Linked DNA regions of Homo sapiens: region 1 is linked to region 2. The links come from fine-mapping of genetic effects on gene expression. A gene starts in region 2. The other region holds a variant in brackets. All regions are shown on one strand. Distances are between the middles of the regions.

Region 1 (5,000 bases), 38 kb before region 2:
GAGTACACTCTGTTGTAAAGCTATGTCACTCCGATTTAAGGAAAAAGTAGGTAATTTACCTAAGCCTATCATACCAAATCTCGTTTAAAAAGAGGGAGCTTAAATACTATAATCCCTGTCAAATTCCACCATAGCATAGTATATAAGAAGAAAAATAAAAATATTCCCCAAGCACCTGTAAAGTAGCTAATAAAAGACGGATGGGAAACCGTTTCTCAGCTAGAGTCCTTTCTATGAAAACTTGGGTGCCTCAGGGGGTCTGGAGGGGATGTCAGGCCATCTGAACTTGCATAAAATGCTGATGATTTTATCTCCACCTAATGAACTATGATACCAAAATAGAAAATAATAATAATAATCTGTAGCTAGAGAGGGAAACACTGTGACAAATATTCTTATATTCTTTGAAATACCATAACCTCATTTTCAGCCTACAGCTTGCAGAGGGCACATATGAAAGCATTTGAGTGTCCTCATAGAACAGAGGCATAAAATGGCCTATATAAAAAGACTCATTTTGAAATGGACTGCTAAGGAATCATCCCAATTTAGGTGCACAGAGGTCACACATGGTCACATATATGAAGATGCAACAGCCTAGAAGGACATCTGACAAACAGCAGAGAACCAGCTGCCTCAAGGTGGGAGTGTGAAGAATGATTCTTGTTCCTCTCTTACACTTTCTGTACTTCACAATAAAATGGACCATTTAACACAGAAGAGAGTGCCCCAGTCCCTTACTTGTTCAGCTCCTTGCTGTGCGCGTCTGCTCCCTGCTGTATCAGTCTGTCCAGCACTTCCATTGGGGAGGTAGAGGGCACACCATCTTCCTCTGTGTTTCCTTTTGCTTTCTTTAACAGCTCCTCAGTCTTCCTGATGACAAAATGATGGGCTGTCTTTGGCAATGCCACCTCAAAAAGATGATCATACGGGGGAGGCTGCCCGCTTCCAAAGCCCACTCTCGTCGGAGGTGGAATTTTACAAGGACTGGGAGTGAAGATACTGGTCTCCAAAGAAGTCTGGCATTCCCTGTCTCCCGCAGGGCTTTCATCAGCACTGCCGCAGGGCAGGTCTATGGGAGTAAAGGCTTGCTTTGGTGTGTCAGGCCCAAGCTTGTCCAGGGAGGAGTGTAAAGGCTCAGGGTTCACGCTGGCGCCCTGAGAACTGGAGGCTGCCGAGTGGGTCTTCCGCTGAGAACCTGGGAGACTGTCTCGGTAAAAGGGAGAGTCAAAGCCTCCTCGAGGAACCACAGGCTCTGCCTCTGCTGTGGTGATCTCAGAAAGTTCTCTAGATATTGCAGCTGAGAGGAAGAGAGGAAACAAAAGAAATGGCAGTCGGTATTCCACCTGGGAAAGACTAGGCAGTTTGGGTGGCATGCTGCCACATGCCAGTGTCACTCAGAGAGAGGAGAAAAAGTGGCATCCGGCTGGACACAGTGGCTCACGCCTGTAATGCCAGAACTTTGGGAGGCTGAGGAGGGAGGATCACTTGAGCCCAGGAGTTAGAGACCAGCCTGGACAACATAGGGAGATCCCATCTCTACAAAAAATACAATAAAAATCAGCTGAGCATCGTGGTGTATGCCTGTGGTCCCAGCTACTCAGGAGGCTGAGGTGGGCGGATTGCTTGAGCCTGGGAGGTCAAGGCTGCAGTGAGCCATGATCGTACCACTGCACTCCAGCCAGGGTGACAGAGCAAGACCCTGTCTCAAAAAAAAAAAAAAAAAAAGTGGCATCACTTTACCTGGCATAGGTCCCAGACTAAACCACCCATCTTGTTACCTCAAGAGAAGAAAAATCCAGCAAGCCTGTGAGCAATGGCACAAAATCCCAGATTTATAGCAGAGCGAGGGTCAGGTTTTATCAACTCATAGCAATCCCACATACATTACCTTCTTCTTTATCTTTTTCAATACTATCTTCTTCAGAGGCCAGATCACCTAAAAACCCTGGAAGATCACTTAGAGTGACAGAACCTTTGCTGCCAGGTGGCTCTTCTGAAGAGAAACAAAGACAACTGAAGTCAAAGAAATACAGTGTAATCCCTGTAAGTGTAAAACTGCTTACACTGTATAGAATATGTCTGTAATAACTCTTCATGCTGAACAGAGAAGGCTGGACATGGCTCTGTCCTGGGG[ATAC/A]TACAAAAGACTGAAATATTAAAAATAATATAACTAAAAGTACCAAAAATAATCCCATAGCAAATAAAATTCTCAGTTCTTAATGTCTCTGAAAAGAGATATAGTCAAGTCAGAATACAGGTACTTCACTGCAATAGCTTAAAAACTGTTTTTGATATTATTAGGTTGGTGTTTAGAATTCACTACTCGTTTCATTATGTTTAGGCCTCAGTATTTTGGATATCCCAGAATTTCCTTGTTTCCATTTAACTTTCTTTTCTTAAACACATATAACCCAATTAGAAGAGGCAAGCAAGGCCTGTAGTAACGCAGAAATTTTACCTGATCCTCTGTCATTCAGAAGATGGTGTTGTCTGTGTAGACATGGTCTTGCAGAATCCATTCTCTCTTCCTGAAAAGATAAGTATCATTTATATCACAAGACGAAAAATGTTGCACATGTTCTCGAGCATATTGTAAAGTAGTTTAAAGGTCAGCCGAGTGCAGTGATTCTCAAATTGTTGGGATGTTTTCTTTTCTTTTTTTTTGAGGTGGAGTTTCGCTCTTGTTGCCCAGGCTGGAGTGCAATGGCACAATCTCGGCTCACTGCAACCTCCGCCTCCTGGGTTCAAGCGATTCTCCTGCCTCAGCCTCCAGAGTAGCTGGGATTACAGAAATGCACCACCACGCCTGGCTAATTTTTGTATTTTTAGTACAGACGGGGTTTCTCCACATTGGTCAGGCTGGTCACGAACTCCCAACCTCAGATGATCTGCCTGCCTCGGCCTCCCAAAGTGCTGGGACCACGCCCAGCAGCTTTCTTTATAGTCTTAAAAAATGGCTGCAGACTGGGCGTGGTGGCCCACGCCTGTAGTCCCAGCACTTTGGGAGGCCAAGGCCAGTGGATCCCTTGAGCTCAGCAGTTTGAGACTAGCCTGGGGAACATGGCAAAACCCCATCTCTACAAAAAATTTAAAAAGTAGCCGGGCATGGTGACTGGTGCTTGTAGTCCCAACTACCCAGGAGGCTGAGGTGGGAGGACCACCTGAGCCAGGGAGGTCAAGGCTGCAGAGAGCTGCAATTGTGCCACTGCACTCCAGCCTGGGCGACAGAGTGAGACCCTGTCTCACACACACAAAATAATAATAATAATGAGAAAGTTGGAGAATCCCAAGAGCTTTTACGAGGCATAATTATTATATTAGAAAACCAGGAAATTTTTAAAATATTAATTCCCTTAAAAATAGCAAGCCCATTACAAGTTAATGTAAATTACATATTCTTATTAAAAAACTATATTTCCCGAAATAAAAATAAATTTAGTGAGAAGAATGGAACATTTTTGCCATCTCTTTAATATATGGCTTCATGAAAGACAGCTGGATTCTCATATCTACCTCTACATTCAGTCTGTTGCAATATGTTATTTTGACTGAAGTGTATAAAGAAAATCTGGGGCCCCACAGATATGTAATTGCAAAAGTAAACATATGTGTTGTTGTTTTTCTTTTTGAGACAGGGTCTGGCTCTGTCACCTAGGCTGGAATGCAGTGGCGTGATCATGGCTCACTGCAATCTCTGCCTCCTGGGCTCAAGCCGTTCTCCATCAGCTCCCCGATTAGCTGGGACTACAGATGCACATCACCACACCTGGCTTTTTTTTTTTTTTTAGTTGAGATGGGGTTTTGCATGTTGCCCAGGCTGGTCTTGAACGCCTGGGCTCAAGCAATCTACCTCCCTTGGACTCCCAGAGTGCTGGATACAGAAGCAAGCCACCACGCCCAGCCGCAAAAAGTAAACGTATGTTGACAGACTTTTCAAATAATCATCTTTGTTATTACACCAAAATTTGATAAGTGTTAGTTTCTTAAAGTTACAAAGTGAAATTTGAAACCACATCAATGAGCTTTTCCTGTGTTAAAACCCACTAGTCTACCTTGCACTTTTTTTTTTTTTTTTTGTGACAGTCTTGCCCTGTTGCCCAGGCTGGGGCTGGAATGCAGTGGTGTGATCTCGACTTACTGCAACCTCCGCCTCCTGGGTTCAAGTGATTCTCCCGCCTCAGCCTCCCAAGTAGCTGGGATTACAGGTGCCTGCCACCATACCCGGCTAATGTCTATATTTAGTAGAGATGGTGTTTCAACATGTAGGCCAGGCTGGTCTTCAACTGCTGACCTCAAGTGATCCACCTGCTTCAGCCTCCCAAAGTGCTGGGTTACAGGTGTAAGCCACTGCGCCCAGCCTGCTTTGTACTTTGAATGTACTTTTTACCTATGCATGATTCTGCAACGTATCATACATTGGACACTCTGAAAATATTGGCTCCTCAAGCTATTCAAATATTCCAAATGTTGAAACACTTCATTATACAATATCAAAAACTCAAATTACTAACTAAGCTTCCACAGACTTTTCGGTCTCATCATAAAAGTCCTGGGGCAGCTATCAAGTTCATGGTAGTATATACACGTTTTTTAATATCTTGATTTCCACCTGAGAGTTGACTTTTATTGTTGGCAACAAATACTGTCAGTTGTTTATCTTGAAGTGACAGACTCAGCTCATCATTTGAGAAGCTGCCTGCCAAACACCCAAGTCTGAATAACCAGTTTGTAAGACAGCAGTTCTTTCAAATAAAACTGGCATTCCATGAAAAAAGGCAGCTACTTCACCTCTCAATTCAAATAACTGCATGAGGGCCAGAGGTCACCATCATACCCTGGTATGCAGTACATGTGCCTTATGCATATTTTCTATTTTGCCACGAAGAATATTACACATACATGTTCTCAAGGGCTAAGATTTAATAAAATTAATAATGGTTACTGCTTAATACAGAACACTCAACTTTTAAAATTTTTTAGTTTTTATTGTTTTTAAT
Region 2 (5,521 bases):
AAATATATATACAAGGTGTCCGAATATGTAGGTCTACCTAGTATAGTGCCAAATATCTGTACATCAAGGTTCTCATGAGCACTAGGGTTTCAGATCTCGTTTCCACCAAGTTCATTATTCTGCAAACATTACATATAGAGGTATATATTAGATTTGCCCTAGTAAGACTGTTAAGTTTCATCTCACGAATGAAACCAGGCATGCACAGAAGGCATCATATTACACCACAACAGTAGCAGTATCAGTTTTTACTCTTAACCCAGTGAGGAAGAGGACAACTGAGTCACAGGACCTGAAGCACTCTAATTTTATGGAAACAAGAAGGCTGGTAGCCACCTGCTTTCTAACCAGGAATTTAGGAACGTACCAAGTGTTTATGACACCAGGAAATGCATGCAGCAGAGAAAGTTTACATCATCTGCCCTTCTAGGCACGTGATATAAGAGTGTTTTGGATAAGATATTAACTTTAGTAAGAGGATATTTTCCGTTTACATCTTCTATAAATACCCCTTAAGTTTACACCAGGTGGTTAGAGGAAGATTCTGCAGCTCCCTAGGGCAATAGCAAAGAATGTTTCACTGTTTCTGAGGAGCCTCATTTGCCTGATGCATGACTGTTAAAGGTGCATTTCCCTACACAACCCTAAATCAGTTTTCACATTTGCATATTCCAGATTTACTCAGGAATGTTCAATTTAAGAATCACAGGTGGTTGCTCGGTAAATCAAAGGCTCCCCAAAGATTAGGTTTTATAATGCTTCCTGAAATTTACAGCTCCACTTTGCCGGCCTGTTTGAATTCAGATGACTCCAAGTTGATCCCAAAATTATAAATCAAAGTATCTCAGAAGAGTATTATTCTATTTTAGCACTTTTATAGCTTACTCTATGCAACGTGAAGTGTTATTTGTATGCTTTCTATTTAAAAAAAAAAAAAAGCCAGCAAGGATTTTAGCAGGACTTCTTTCTTCAGTAAACTCATCAGTTTTATTAAACTATCAAATACTTTTTAGCCTAATTTAGACTAACAAGTTCACATGCACAACACTGCCATCCCAAACAAAAGCTAAGGCGGATAAGCCAAGTGCATCCCCCCACTTCAACATTAAACAGACACACGTGCATAAACCTTGGCTAAATGATAAATTTTAATCACTTACAGGCCAGCTTTGATCAAATAACAGATAAATTTAAGAGTCATATCTTTGGAGTCAGTCAGATCCCAGCAGTTCCAGTCCTGGCTCAGATACAATTGGGGTGTGAACTTAGGCAAAGTACCCTGCTCTCTCCGGGCCTCAGTTTCTTCATTTGAGAAGATTGGAGGTGTTAACAGTGGCTGCCTCTTCTCTTTGTCGTGAGGACCAAAGGAGATAATGACTGCCAAGCACTTTCACAGTGCCTGGCACACAGAGAGCACTCCATTAACGTTAGCTGTTGTTCTTAGGAGGACCGCGTCCCCTCCCAAGTCCTCACCACACATCCAAAACACACAAAGCAAAACTCTTTAACAGGAAACACAAAGAAAGAGCTTTAATTCTACAAGGTCCCTCCGATTGCAGGCTCTTCATCCTCCAGTTCCTCAAATGAATGAATGAACGCCTAGGAGGGGCTCTGCAAATAGCTGTCTCTTAGGAATCCCCTTTGCCCACTTTAAGGTAACTGTCTTTCACCACCAATTAAACACCCACAAGTACACCCAGAGCGAGTCATGCAAATTTCAGCGGAGACACCGAATCCAGGCGAGTCCTTGATCCCCACAGGCGACCTCCATTCATTCTCCACGCCCCTATACCCCGACCCCTCTCTTTAAGTTCTGGGACCAGCCCCACCCTCGCGACCCTTCCCCTCCCGCCAAGCGTCTCTACCCTGCCCTCCGCACCTAGCGTGAACCTGTCACCCCACCAAGTGAGGGACTGACGAAGGGGCCCACCTCGCCCCTGCCCGAGGGACCGAGGCCCAGGGTGCAGCCGTCCCCTCGGGGGCCAAGGAGGGGCGAAGTGCTCCGTCCGGCTCGCCTCTCCTCCCCAGGGACCCGCCAGTCCCGGCCGGGCCAGCCGGAGATAGCGTGTAATAAGAGGGAGGGGAGAGCTCTCCGAACCCCCCTTCCCCGGGATCCCTACCAAGCAAGTGAGTCTCTTGCTCCAGCCCCTCCGAGCCTCCCCGGCTGGAGTCATGGTGCCGGGGCTGCCCCAGGAAGCCCCCATAAAAAGGAGGGGGAGACACCCCCATACTCACCCACCGTCTCCTCCCCCTCAGCTGTTTACCTCACAGTCCCTCCAGCCTACAGGGCGCCGCCATCTTGGACGTACAGCACCTCCCCCGTCGTGAAAGGGCCAAGGCCGACGGCGGCCTCCGCCACGAAAAAGAGTCCCCCTCCGGACCTCCCCTCCTTCTCGAAAGGAAGGATAGACGGCCGCGCTCGGCAGCCCCGCCGGAAGGAAGAGGCTCTTCCACTCATAACTGACGATGTGGGTTGGACGAGAAAAAAAGTAAGGAGGGTTTTTATGGAGGGGGGCGGGGCCGGGCGGAAGGATCCGAAAGGAGGCTGCGAAGAGATCTTGTGACTCCGCGAAGGAGGCAAAAAGAAGGGCCGGCGCGGCGGGAGGAGCCACGCGAGAGCCCGAGGGGGCGGGGCGGGCGGTCACGTGACTGGCGGGCGGGGGGACGCGGCGGAGAGGCGTAAACAAGCTGGCGGCGCCTGGGTGTGGTTGGAGCGCCCTGCCCCTGCCCCCCGAGTCGTTTCTGCCCTTCGCTTGCGTGGCGCCCTCCGAGGGTCTCTCTGTGGGCGGCCTCAGAGCAGCGATCCTGTTTCCCAAGGAGCTGCTGGGGCCCGCGTGGGTGAAGGGCCTGCTTGGGAGCTTTGGAGTTGCAGCTCACCTGGGAAGGGGCGGAAAGCTGCGGGCCAGGGCAGCCCTCCTTCCTGGGCTAAACATTTTCAGAAGCCCGCCTCCGGGATTGCGGGGGACCCCCCTGGCTTCTGCCTTCAAGTAGCTCACACTTCACACCTACTCATGACATCTAGGGGAAACCAGCCCTAATAGGAGACAGCTTGAAAATCAGAACGCCTTATTCCGTTTCCTGCTGAAACAAGGCTTTAAGTCCTCCAAGCCTCAGTTTCTTCCTCTGTGAAATGGGCATAATGACATCTGTGACGTGAAGAATCAAGGAGATGAAGTATGGACAGCGTTTAGCCCAGAGTCCTGCGCCTAGTAAATGCTCACTCACTAGATAGGTGGCCTTTATTGCGAGGCTGAGTATGATGGGCTCCATCCAGCACGAACACAAAGCCCTGTGAGAGGAGGCAGAGTGAGATGAAGTCGAACTGTGGGATATGAAAGGCATTTTGAAGGAGTAGGCATCAGGTTGGGTTTTAAAGGAAATGTAGGTTTTGTGAAATACTAGGTCGGTGCAAAAGTCATCACGGTTTTTACCATTAAAACCGCGATGACTTTTGCATCAACCTAATAGAACCAGGCGAGGCGGCTCGGGAGAGAAGGCCATTCCAGGCAGAGGGAACCAAAGGAGCAAGAGCCTAGGGGCAAAAAAGTGTTGGGTGAGTTATGGGAATAACAGGTTTTGTCATGGGAACCAATTGGGTCACAGTGCAAGGCAGCCATGGTTAAGGGGGGCCAGGTGTGTGAGTAGCCAGCACCGTGGGTGCCTTCAGAATTCTGAAAAGGCCCTGGATGGTATCGGGTAGAGCCGCTGCTAGTCAGTATAGGGCCTTGGTGAGAATTAGAAAAATGGCACCCCTGGGCTGTATTTTGGCCCCTATCCACCAGCCCCAAACCCTCCTGGGCCCTTGAGCAGTGAACAACCTTTATAACCATACGTCTAGAGCCACGAAGGCTTAGGAGGGAGGTGAAAATTGAACTGATGATTCCTCTGTTCTAACACAGTCGCTGGGGGGAAGCTAAGAGTTCTAGATTCAAACAGACCAGAGTTTGAATGTAGGTTTCAGCCATCATGTTCTAACTGGATGAGCCTTAGTCTCCTCACCTGCAACATAGGGCTAATAATAATGCTAGTTCATGGGGATTTGGGGTGAAGTCAGTGAGTCATTAAGCTCTAAGTGGCACAGAGCCTACTCCAGTTAATGTTATTTTTGATAACTGTTAAGTGCCAGCTGTCAGCATCCATCACTTCCAGAAACGGGTCCACCAAACACTAAATTCTTCTGTGTCACCACCCAAGCATAGTCTGCATGGGGTCCAGAGATGGAAAGGTCGAGGGAAACGGGGAAGGGTCTGGGTTCTCTCAGTTCCACCAATCTGCAAACTACTTTACAGGAACAGACTCTTCCCTTTGCATTCACACCAGGGAAGGGATTCAAGATTTCTGAAATCTTCAGAGATTTCTGAGACCACCAGTGATGGGAGACCTAAGGAGGAGGGCAGGGGGAGCAGCACTGCTCTGGAGCTCTGACCCAGGAAGCCCCCCCACACCCTGACCTTCCTTGGCTCCATGACCTCATCCTGCAGGAATGCATTCTGCCATGGAGGAGAGCAGCCATAAGCAGAGCTCATCAACTGCTCACTTTCCAGGGGGCCATAACCACATTGTCACTGTTTCTACACTGTCTGGAAGAAGAATGGGCATTGTTACCTCAATATGGGACCACCAGGGGCTTGCAAGAAGAGGCTGAAGGTGACAGGCAGAGACAGCTCTACTACCATCTCCTGCCACTTACCAGGCTGGGCCACCTAGATGTTTTCTGCTTCTCTGGGGTTGATTTTTGTCATTTGCTCAACAGACACTATTCAGACCACTACCTTCCATACACCACCCTGGAGCCTCCCTGTGACGGGGCTTCCTGACCGGCCTGTCTGAGCATGAAAGGGCTGAGCCCTCCATAGGCGGGCGTGCTGACAGGATGCACGTGGTGGAGGACATCTGCTGCATTTGGCTGTGTGACATCTCCCCCTCGCCTTCTGAACAGGTGAACCGCCCATCCTCAATTCTTTCAGTGCTGATGGTCCTCACAATCACAGTACCAGCCCCAGGCCACAGCAGGTGGACCAGGCCTGGCCAATCTGAGATGCCCATCATGGAGCTTGTTAAAAGAAAGCTTAAGACAAGTTCAATTAGATTAAATTTAATCGAGCAAAAAAAAAAAAAAAAAAGAAAGAAAAAGAGAATTCATGAATCAGGCAGCCTCTAGAATCAACAGATTCAGAGAGACTCCCGGGGTCAGAACAAATTTATAGACAAAGTAAAGTGGCCTGGCGCAGTAGCTCACTTCTGTAATCCTAGCAATTTGGGAGGCCAAGGCAGGTAGATGGCTTGAGGTCAGGAGTTCGAGACCAGCCTGGCCAACATGGTGAAACCCTGTCTCTACTAAAAATACAAAAATTAGCCAGGCGTGGTGGCGGGTACCTATAATCCAAGCTACTCAGGAGGCTGAGGCAGGAGAATCACTTGAACCTGGGAGGCAGAGGTTGTAGTGAGCTGAGATTGTGCCACTGCATTCCAGCCTGGGTAACAAAGAGAGACTTGGTCTCCAAAAAAAAAAAAAAAAAAA

The links. PIP is the estimated chance that this variant, and not a neighbour inherited with it, causes the effect.
Region 1: its variant is fine-mapped to the expression of TSC1 in whole blood (TOPMed, PIP above 0.99).

Annotation. Positions count from the first base shown.
Region 1 is chr9:132,904,840-132,909,839 of GRCh38, forward strand. It overlaps TSC1 (TSC complex subunit 1), which reads right to left. Exons shown (of 23, transcript NM_000368.5): 13 at 2,462-2,531; 14 at 1,892-1,996; 15 at 742-1,300. Among named protein-coding and RNA genes, the nearest start is that of SPACA9, 28 kb to the left of the region's middle. The variant ATAC/A (reference allele first, on the strand shown) is at 2,138.
Region 2 is chr9:132,942,308-132,947,828 of GRCh38, forward strand. It overlaps TSC1 (TSC complex subunit 1), which reads right to left and starts at 2,309. Exons shown (of 23, transcript NM_000368.5): 1 at 2,236-2,309. It overlaps MIR548AW (microRNA 548aw), which reads left to right and starts at 3,400; the gene lies at 3,400-3,464. It also overlaps a transcript of GFI1B not described here. RefSeq lists silencers at 1,917-1,976, 2,037-2,096, 2,627-2,706 and enhancers at 2,181-2,914, 2,227-2,526, 2,887-3,026.